Linked DNA regions of Homo sapiens: region 1 is linked to region 2. Evidence: fine-mapped expression QTL. A gene starts in region 2. The other region holds a variant in brackets. All regions are shown on one strand. Distances are between the middles of the regions.

Region 1 (4,000 bases), 27 kb before region 2:
TTTGTGAGCATAGGTATGTTTTGGTCCTACTTTTTGGTTTTATATTTTAACTAGACAAATGATTCTCTGCTTCCTTCATGGAGAATGGTTGTATATTTTTCCTGGCACTGTGTTTGTTTCATTATAGATCGAAAACAATCCACATACACAGGATTGTTTAAAGTAAGTCTATTGATTTCATTGTCACTCATCTCTTTGTTGAGAATAGCCCACTTTATATAGAAGGTCAGTTCCTTCTCTTTTTTTTTTTCCCTTGTGCTTTCTGAAGCTGATCCAAGAAAAGAACTTCCTTTGATTTTCTTTGATGTCTCTGAGAATTCTGGGCTTGCTGCAAATGACTGAACAGACTTTTATACTGAAGAAATGTTAAGTGGCCGGGCGCGGTGGCTCACACCTATAATCCCAGCACTTTGGGAGGCTGAGGCGGGCAGATCACCTGAGGTCGAGAGTTCAAGACCAGCCTGACCAATATGGAGAAACCCCATCTCTACTAAAAATACAAAATTAGCTGGGTGTGGTGGCACATGCCTGTAATCCCAGCTACTTGGGAGGCTGAGGCAGGAGAATCACTTGAATCGGGGAGGCGGAAGTTGTGGTGAGCCTAGATCACGCCATTGCACTCCAGCCTGGGCAACAAGAACAAAACTCCACCTCAAAAAAAAAAAAAAAAAGAAAAAAAGAAAGAAATGTTAAGTAATGATTTATACAAGGATGTTACAATCTGACTGAGTCATTTAAAGTGTATTTATTTGCGTATCAGTTTTACAGGCGTTTATCAGAGGAAATGACACAAAGAAGATGGGAGAATATGCCAGTTTCCCAGTCATTACAAACAAATAGAGGACCCCAGGTATTTTTAAAACTATTTGCTAATCCAGTATTTTCAACTCTGTACTTACATCTTCATTAAGAAAAAGACTCTGTGATTGTAGAACTTGCCCAAAACAAAATACTGCAATGGTATTCTTATAAAGAATTTATTTTCGGTAGGGCGCGGTGGCTCACGCCTGTAATCCCACTACTTTGGGAGGCCAAGGCGGGGTGGATCATGAGGTCAGGAGTTCAAGACCAGCCTGGCCAACATTGTGAAACCCTGTCTCTACTAAAAATACAAAAATTAGCCAGGCAGGTTGGTGCACGCCTGTAATCCCAGCTGCTCAGAAGGCTGAGGCAGGAGAGTCACCTGAACCCAGGAGGCGGAGGTTGCTGTGAGCCAAGATTGCACCATTGCACTTCAGCCTGGGCGACAGAGCAAGACTCCGTCTCAAAAAAAGAAAAAAAAAATTATTTTCACAGCACCTAATTTAGTGCTGTCTATACAGCAGACGCTTAGTAAACATAAATGACTGCTTACCAGCGTAATTCTTAGGGTGATAGAAGGTAGGGTTCACTCACTGCATTCTGTTCTTCATAATCAGTGTGACATTTGAGAGAATAGACAGTACAGCTGGGTAATGTTTTCCAGGCCTGTCTAAATTAATCACCAACACTAGACAGGTACTCAAATGTATGAAAGTAGCTTGAATAATAACTTAATTAAGAACCAAAATTTAAACTGTGATTTTTTTTGTACATTTGAGACCCTATTAAGTATCTGATACGTAATAGCTTGCCAAAGAAGGAAAATGATAGGAAATTTAACTTATCTCTAAAATGCAGAGTAAAATATGCCATTTATTGTATATTTGGTTTTTCCTGAATGATTTTAAGATCATTATGTACAGCAAGAAACAAACACATGTTTTGAAGGGAAGCTAAATGTCCGTGTATGCTGTTTTTCTTTGGTTCTTTGTAGGTCCTTTCCCGCCATTGAAAACACAATGTGGTTGGTTACAAAAGATTTTGTTTCCTTCCTATTTTGTATGTTTTATTTTCTAC[C/T]TCTTTTTTTTTTCAGCCAGGAAGAATAAGGGCTGTAGGAATTGTAGGTATTGAAAGGAAACTGGAAGAAAAAAGAAAAGAAACTGACAAAAACATTTCTGAGGTAACTGTTAAATTCTGGCTCTCCATCTATTCCAGCCATTTGTGTCTATTCTTTTAGATACAGCTGTGCCTAATTCCCTTCTGTAATTTAGAATATATTTCATTTGCCTGAAGCTACATAGTCTCCTATTCTCTTTAACAGGTCTACCTCGGGCTGGCAAAATCTAACCAAAACCTTTTTCTAAAAGGAATAAAAAAGAAATGCAAATTTGTTTGCTGTTAGAAAACATCATAAAATGTTGTGTGTAGATTTTACAGTCTAGATGAAATTGATTGGCGGATACTCCTAATGAGTTCAGGGTTCTCTGTATAATTATTTTGGAAGTTGAAGTAACTTAGTTGAGAGAAAAATGCTATTCTGTGGCCAGTCTGTGGCCAGATACCACACCATTTTATGTTGATGACCACCCAGGGATCAGACCAGACATCAGTAAGAACGGCTCAAAGCAGCCCATCACTTCTACTGGGGGACAACCCTGAGCATGTACATTCCAGTGTTTCTGAGGCTTCATGATATATGAGGAAATTCAAGAGAAGGGGAAAGAACTCTAGCTAAAAAGACCAGTTATGCATTAGATTCTGTAATTAGTTAATACAGCTAAACATATCACTGGTTTTTCCATGTTTATATAAAAATGGTCTTGGTTTTTTATGAAATGATGCTTTAAAGTAAATCTTTGGTTTTTATAGTAATTCATAAGTAAAATTCTGTTGATGGTTGCTTTTCAGAGAATTTCAAAGATTTATGTCAATCAAGTAAAGTCTAAAACTACAAATAGTTATTTAAATACTTATTTTGGGCTCACTAATTGAAAATATAGATTACTGTTGGGGAACCAAGGGCATTTGACCTATTAAGTGCCCATAGTAGGTTTTTCTGGATATGTATCTGTGGTGAAGTTGTATATTTTCCTCAACCCTGTATTTTCCCCAAATTGGCAGCTGGATCCAGAATCTCTGTCACACTCATGTTCTGTCCGTTTGGCAAAACTAGAGGTGATGCTGTGTTCTTTCGTCAGAGGCACATCTTATCTCTGTCATGTTAGCAGCTGTTAATATTCAGTGCCTAGATCTATTAGTTCATTGGTGGTGGTAAATAGTGATAATTCTGTGTTTATTTTTCATTTATTAGTTGGAATACTTTTTAAAGAAATGTTTCCCTTATCTACTATTTGGTTGTCCAGTTCATATAGGAAAGGCAGGATAATTGCATTTTCCTTTATCATCAGGGTAATAAATTGTTTCCTTATTATCTTTTGACGATGACTAATTAGGTTTGTTTGTTTTTTTGTTTTGTTTTGTTTTGTTTTTTGAGACAGAGTCTTGCTCTGTCGCCCAGGCTGGAGTGCAGTGGCTCGATCCTGGCTCACTGCAAGCTCTGCCTCCCAGGTTCACGCCATTCTCCTGCCTCAGCCTCCCGAGTAGCTGGGCCTATAGGCGCCCGCCACCAAACCTGGCTAATTTTTTGTATTTTTAGTAGAGACGGGGTTTCACCATGTTAGACAGGATGGTCTTAATCTTCTGACCTCGTGATCCGCCGCCGCGGCCTCTCAAAGTGATGGGATTACAGGCATGTGCCACCGCGCCCAGCCAACTAATTAGGTTTTTTTTAACATGTCATTATGAATTCATGGAGTTTAGCATATTTGATGGATTTCAATCAGTTATAATTATTATCCTATTTGAAGCTCAAATTGTCCCATCTTTGGCCAGTGGGAGCTGCTTCAAGTTGGCCCTCTAAGTGCTTTTGTTGTGACTAGGTGAACTTTGCTAGCTTCTTCACTATCTGGTGTTGCAAAAGCTCCAGGACCATCTTGTACATTTCCTGCCTCAGATCCGGAATCAACCATTTATCTGAGAAACTCTGGTTTCTTTCTTTCTTTTTTTTTTTTTTTTTTTTGAGACAGAGTCTTACTCTGTCGCTTAGGCTGGAGTGCAGTGCCGCTATTTTGGCTCACTGCAACCTCTGCTTCCCGGATTCAAGCGATTCTCCTGCCTTAGCCTCCCGAGTAGCTGGGAT
Region 2 (4,531 bases):
GCTGGCTGAGGCTGGAGCTGGCTCCCTCAGCTTGCGGGGAGGTGTGGAGGGAGAGGCGCTGGCGGGAACCGGGGCTGCGCACGGTGCTTGCGGGCCAGCACGAGTTCCGGGTGGGTGTGGGCTCGGCGGGCCCGCACTCGGAGCGGCCGGTGGGCCCTGCCGGCCCCGGGCAATGAGGGGCTTAGCACCTGGGCCAGCAGCTGCAGAAGGTGTGCTGGGTCCCCCAGCAGTGCCGGCCCACCGGCGCTGCGCTCAATTTCTCGCAGGGCCTTAGCTGCCTCCCTGAGCAGGGCAGGGCTCGGGACCTGCAGCCCGCCATGCCTGAGCCTCCCCCACCTTCCATGGGCTCCTGTGAGGCCCGAGCTCCCTGACGAGCACCACCCCCTGCTCCACAGCGCCCAGTCCCATCGACCACCCAAGGGCTGAGGAGTGCGGGCACAGGGCGCGGGACTGGCAGGCAGCTCCACTTGCAGCCCCGGTGCGGGATCCACTGGGTGAAGCCAGCTAGGCTCCTCACTGGTGGGCACTTGGAGAACCTTTATGGCTAGCTAAGGGATTGTAAATACACCAGTCGGCACTCTATCTGGCTCAAGGTTTGTAAACACACCAATCAGCACCCTGTGTCTAGCTCAGGGTTTGTGAATGCACCAATGGACACTGTATCTAGCTACTCTTGTGGGGACTTGGAGAACCTTTGTGTGGACACTCTGTATCTAGCTAATGTAGTGGGGACGTGGAGAACCTTTGTGTCTAGCTCAGGGATTGTAAATGCACCAATCAGCGCCCTGTCAAAACAGACCACTCCGCTCTCTGTAAAATGAACCAATCAGCAGGATGTGGGTGGGGCCAGATAAGAGAATAAAAGCAGGCTGCACGCGCCGGCAGTGGCAACCCGCTGGGGTTCCCTTGCAAAGCGTGGGAGCTTTGTTCCTTGGCTCTTTGCAATAAATCTTGCTGCTGCTCACTCTTTGGGTCCACACTGCCTTTATGAGCTGTAACACTCACTGCGAAGGTCTGCAGCTTCACTTCTGAAGCCAGCGAGACTACGGACACACTGGGAGGAACGAACAACTCCAGACGCGCCGCCTTAAAAGCTGTAACACTCATGGCGAAGGTCCGCAGCTTCACTCCTGAACCAGCGAGACCACGAACCCACCAGAAGGAAGAAACTCTGAACACATCCGAACATCAGAAGGAACAAACTCCGGACAGGCCGCCTTTAAGAACTGTAACACTCACCGCGAGGGTCCGCAGCTTTATTCTTGAAGTCAGAAAGACCAAGAACCCACCAATTCCGGACACAGTACCCAATAGGATGTTTTTCAGCCCTTGCCCCTTTCTCTCCCTCCCTTGACTTGGAGTCTCCAGTGTTTGTTGTTGCCATCTTTATGTCCATGAGTACCCGTTGTTTAAGCTCCCACTTATAAGTGAGAACATTCGGTGTTTGGTTTTCTGTTCCTATGTTAATTCACTTAGGATAATGTCCTCCAACTGCATCCATGTTGCTACAGAGGACGTGATTTTGTTCTTTTTTTATGGCTGTTTAGTATTTCGTGGTGTGTATGTACCACATTTTCTTTACCCAGTCTACTGTTGATGGGCACCTAGGTTGATTCCATGTCTTTGCTATTGTAAATAGTACTGTGATAAACATAGTGCGGGTGTCTTTTTGGCAGAATGATTTATTTTCCTTTGGGCATACACCCAGTAATGGGATTGCTGGGTCGAATGATCTTTCTGTTTTTAGTTGAGAAATCTCCAAACTGCTTTCCACAGTGGCTGAACTAATTCACATTCCTATAAAAAGAACTTTAACACTTGCAGAGTAGAGTTTTTAAAATGTTTAGTTATTTTTAATACCAATTCTGACCCCAGGGAAAGAAAATGGAGATGCACTTTACCTGAACTATGTTCTTTTGAAACTCTTCAGTGACATTTGGGAAAGCAAGTTTACAGCCCACATGCTGTGCCGCTTCAAGGACTTATTTTTGTGGTCTCCCTGAAGAAAATGACACTAGAGTAGAAGTGATTGAATGTGAAGTGTCAGGAGATTGCTCGCTCGTCCTTCGTTAAACCCCTGGTCCGGCTGTGTGCTGTGGATGCGGGTGTGTGTTGAGGGGACCTGCGTCTGCCGGGGCCGCACCCCCTCCCGCAGGACCTTGGCTGGCCGCGCGTTTCCTGCCTGTTTCCTGTCCAGCAGCTGGCGAGCTGGGGACCGGCAGGAAAGGATGCGCTGCCCAGAAGGGGCGGGAACCGACCACGCCCGGTCCCGTGTGCCCCCCGCCCTCCCGGCGCCCGCCCTCCCCACGCCGTCGGGGGCGGGCCCCGCGGGGCTGTGGGAGCCGAACGCCGCGGGGTCAGGGCGTGCAGTCTGGGACGCGGGATGCTTGGCGCTCTACCTCGCCGCCCCTGAGCCTTCCCGTCCGCCTCGCCACGCGCCCGGACGGCCTGGGGTTGCTGCCCGTCAGTCTCGAAAGGTAAGAAGCGCCCTCCGCATCCTGGTGTTCGCGCCCGTGCCGCGAGACTCTTGGAGGCTCCTCTGGGGTCGGGAAATGCCTCCGGACTCTGCCACCTCACCGCAGCCTGAAGGCGCAGGTGGACGGTGGCGGCCCCTCCCCACACCCGCCTCGGCCCCAGGGGACGCTTTTAAGGGGTATTGGTCTCCACACTTCGGAGTCCCGAATTTAAGTGAACCTGGCTCTGCCTTGGCTCAGATGTTGCCGAGTGACTGAGACTGGCCACAGAACCTTGAAAAATCGCGTCTTGAGCTACTGTTTCTTTCCAAAAAGAAATCCTTTCTGATATACAAAAAGTATGAAATACAAGGATTAAATTAAATTAAAGACGGTCCTCATTAAGGAGGGCTTTAAGCTGACGACGCGAGGGGTAGACTTCCAGGCGTGAACTGGGCTTGCGGGCATTTGGGAAGCTGAGTAGATGGGGCGAGCCAGGGCGTCCCAGGAACGCTGCACCCAACCTGTGGGACCAGGGCAGAGCAAACTCGAATGAACAGATAAATGAAGCCTGTTTACACGAGCTGCTTTAGAACTAGAGATTTCCTCCCAATAAATACTATTGGTATATATACACACAAGCATGTGCATGTTGGTCAGAAGGGACAAAATAACTGCTTCGTTTTCCATTTTATTCTTTCACGAATCATTGGTCCCATGGACATTAGTGTAATTCATTTACTTTTTCTGCAGCTATGAAGGGAGATTTAGAAGCGTTTGTCCTAGCTGGTTTCAGCAAAAACATGGGGTCTCAGGTTGGGTGATGCTGTTAGCCATTGAGAATATTCACAACTTTTCCCCACCTTCTCAGCTGATGCATTTAGAATTTGTCTCTAAAGTTTACATACAAGAATGCTAGGTAGAAGTATTTTCAAATGTGTATAAAATATATCTAAGTTCTTAATTTCTTAGAACAATTCTCAATGCAAACATTGTAAGAAGTCAGTCGAGGTATTGAGAACAACATGTTGAAAGAAAATAAGCAAGGTAGAAAGAAATTAAAGAGACATATTATGACTAATGTTATGATCATATTCCATATTATGATTGACAAGTAGGCTGGTCTGTTTTATAAGTCTTTTTCCATTCAGCTCTAAATATAGATTGTCTCACCATTCTATGTTTTACCGATCATTTTCATAAGAAAGAAAATGTGTTATAATCACTAAATCAGTAATGATTTGGGGCTTCAAAAATAAAAATGTTATTGTCGTGGAAGCAAACAAATCTGAGAGAAGCCAGTTCAACTTTTGGGAGCTTGCTTCTTCTTAGTTTGGTTACCAGGTCTCAGTGACTTAAAAGAAGCATTGTAATTGTCTTAAGTGCTCACACTTGCCCAAGTGATGTGATGTGTTCTGCAAGGATCTTACTGGCTGACTTTGCCCAGGTTTCCCAGTCCATGTTCGAGGAAAGAATTGGGTCAAGTCTGTGGCTAATTCCACCCAAAACAATTTTCTTCTTCTTTCCTTTCTTTTCTTTTTTTTGGGTGGGGGTGGCGGGGAAGAGGAAGGAGCCCTAATCTGCATAGTTACACTTCAAATCTCTGTTTCCCTTTCAGGAAGTACAGTATTTCCTTTGTTCAGCAGCTCTTGCTGAAAGAAAGCTAATAAGACACACCAGTTTCCCTTCCATTGAATTCTGGCTTATTTCAATCAGTCTTCTTAATTCCACTAATTTGTGCTCTTATCTGAAAAGATGTAACATGTATTTGGAATATAATATACTTGCTTATTAAAATGATTAACTGTGGGCTGGGTGTGGTGGCTCACGCCTGTAATCCCAGCACTTTGGGAGGCCATGGTGGGCAGATCACGAGGCCAGACATCTGAGACCAGCCTGGCCAAAGTGGTGAAACACCGTTTCTACTAAAAATACAAAAATTAGCCAAGCGTGGTGGTGCACACCTATAATCCCCGCTACTCAGAAGCCTGAGGTGGGACAATCACTTGAACCTGGGAGGTGGAGGTTGCAGTGAGCCAAGATCATGCCACTGCACTCCAGGCTAGGTGACAGAGCAA

What was found. PIP is the estimated chance that this variant, and not a neighbour inherited with it, causes the effect. A credible set is the group of variants that fine-mapping cannot tell apart.
Region 1: its variant is the best candidate, but not a certain one, in a credible set for the expression of THSD1 in whole blood (TOPMed, PIP 0.51).

What each region holds. Positions count from the first base shown.
Region 1 is chr13:52,431,643-52,435,642 of GRCh38, reverse strand. It overlaps VPS36 (vacuolar protein sorting 36 homolog), which reads left to right. Exons shown (of 14, transcript NM_016075.4): 5 at 761-850; 6 at 1,895-1,981. Among named protein-coding and RNA genes, the nearest start is that of VPS36, 17 kb to the left of the region's middle. The variant C/T (reference allele first, on the strand shown) is at 1,879.
Region 2 is chr13:52,403,977-52,408,507 of GRCh38, reverse strand. THSD1 (thrombospondin type 1 domain containing 1) reads left to right here and starts at 2,336. Exons shown (of 5, transcript NM_018676.4): 1 at 2,336-2,477. RefSeq lists a silencer at 2,247-2,406.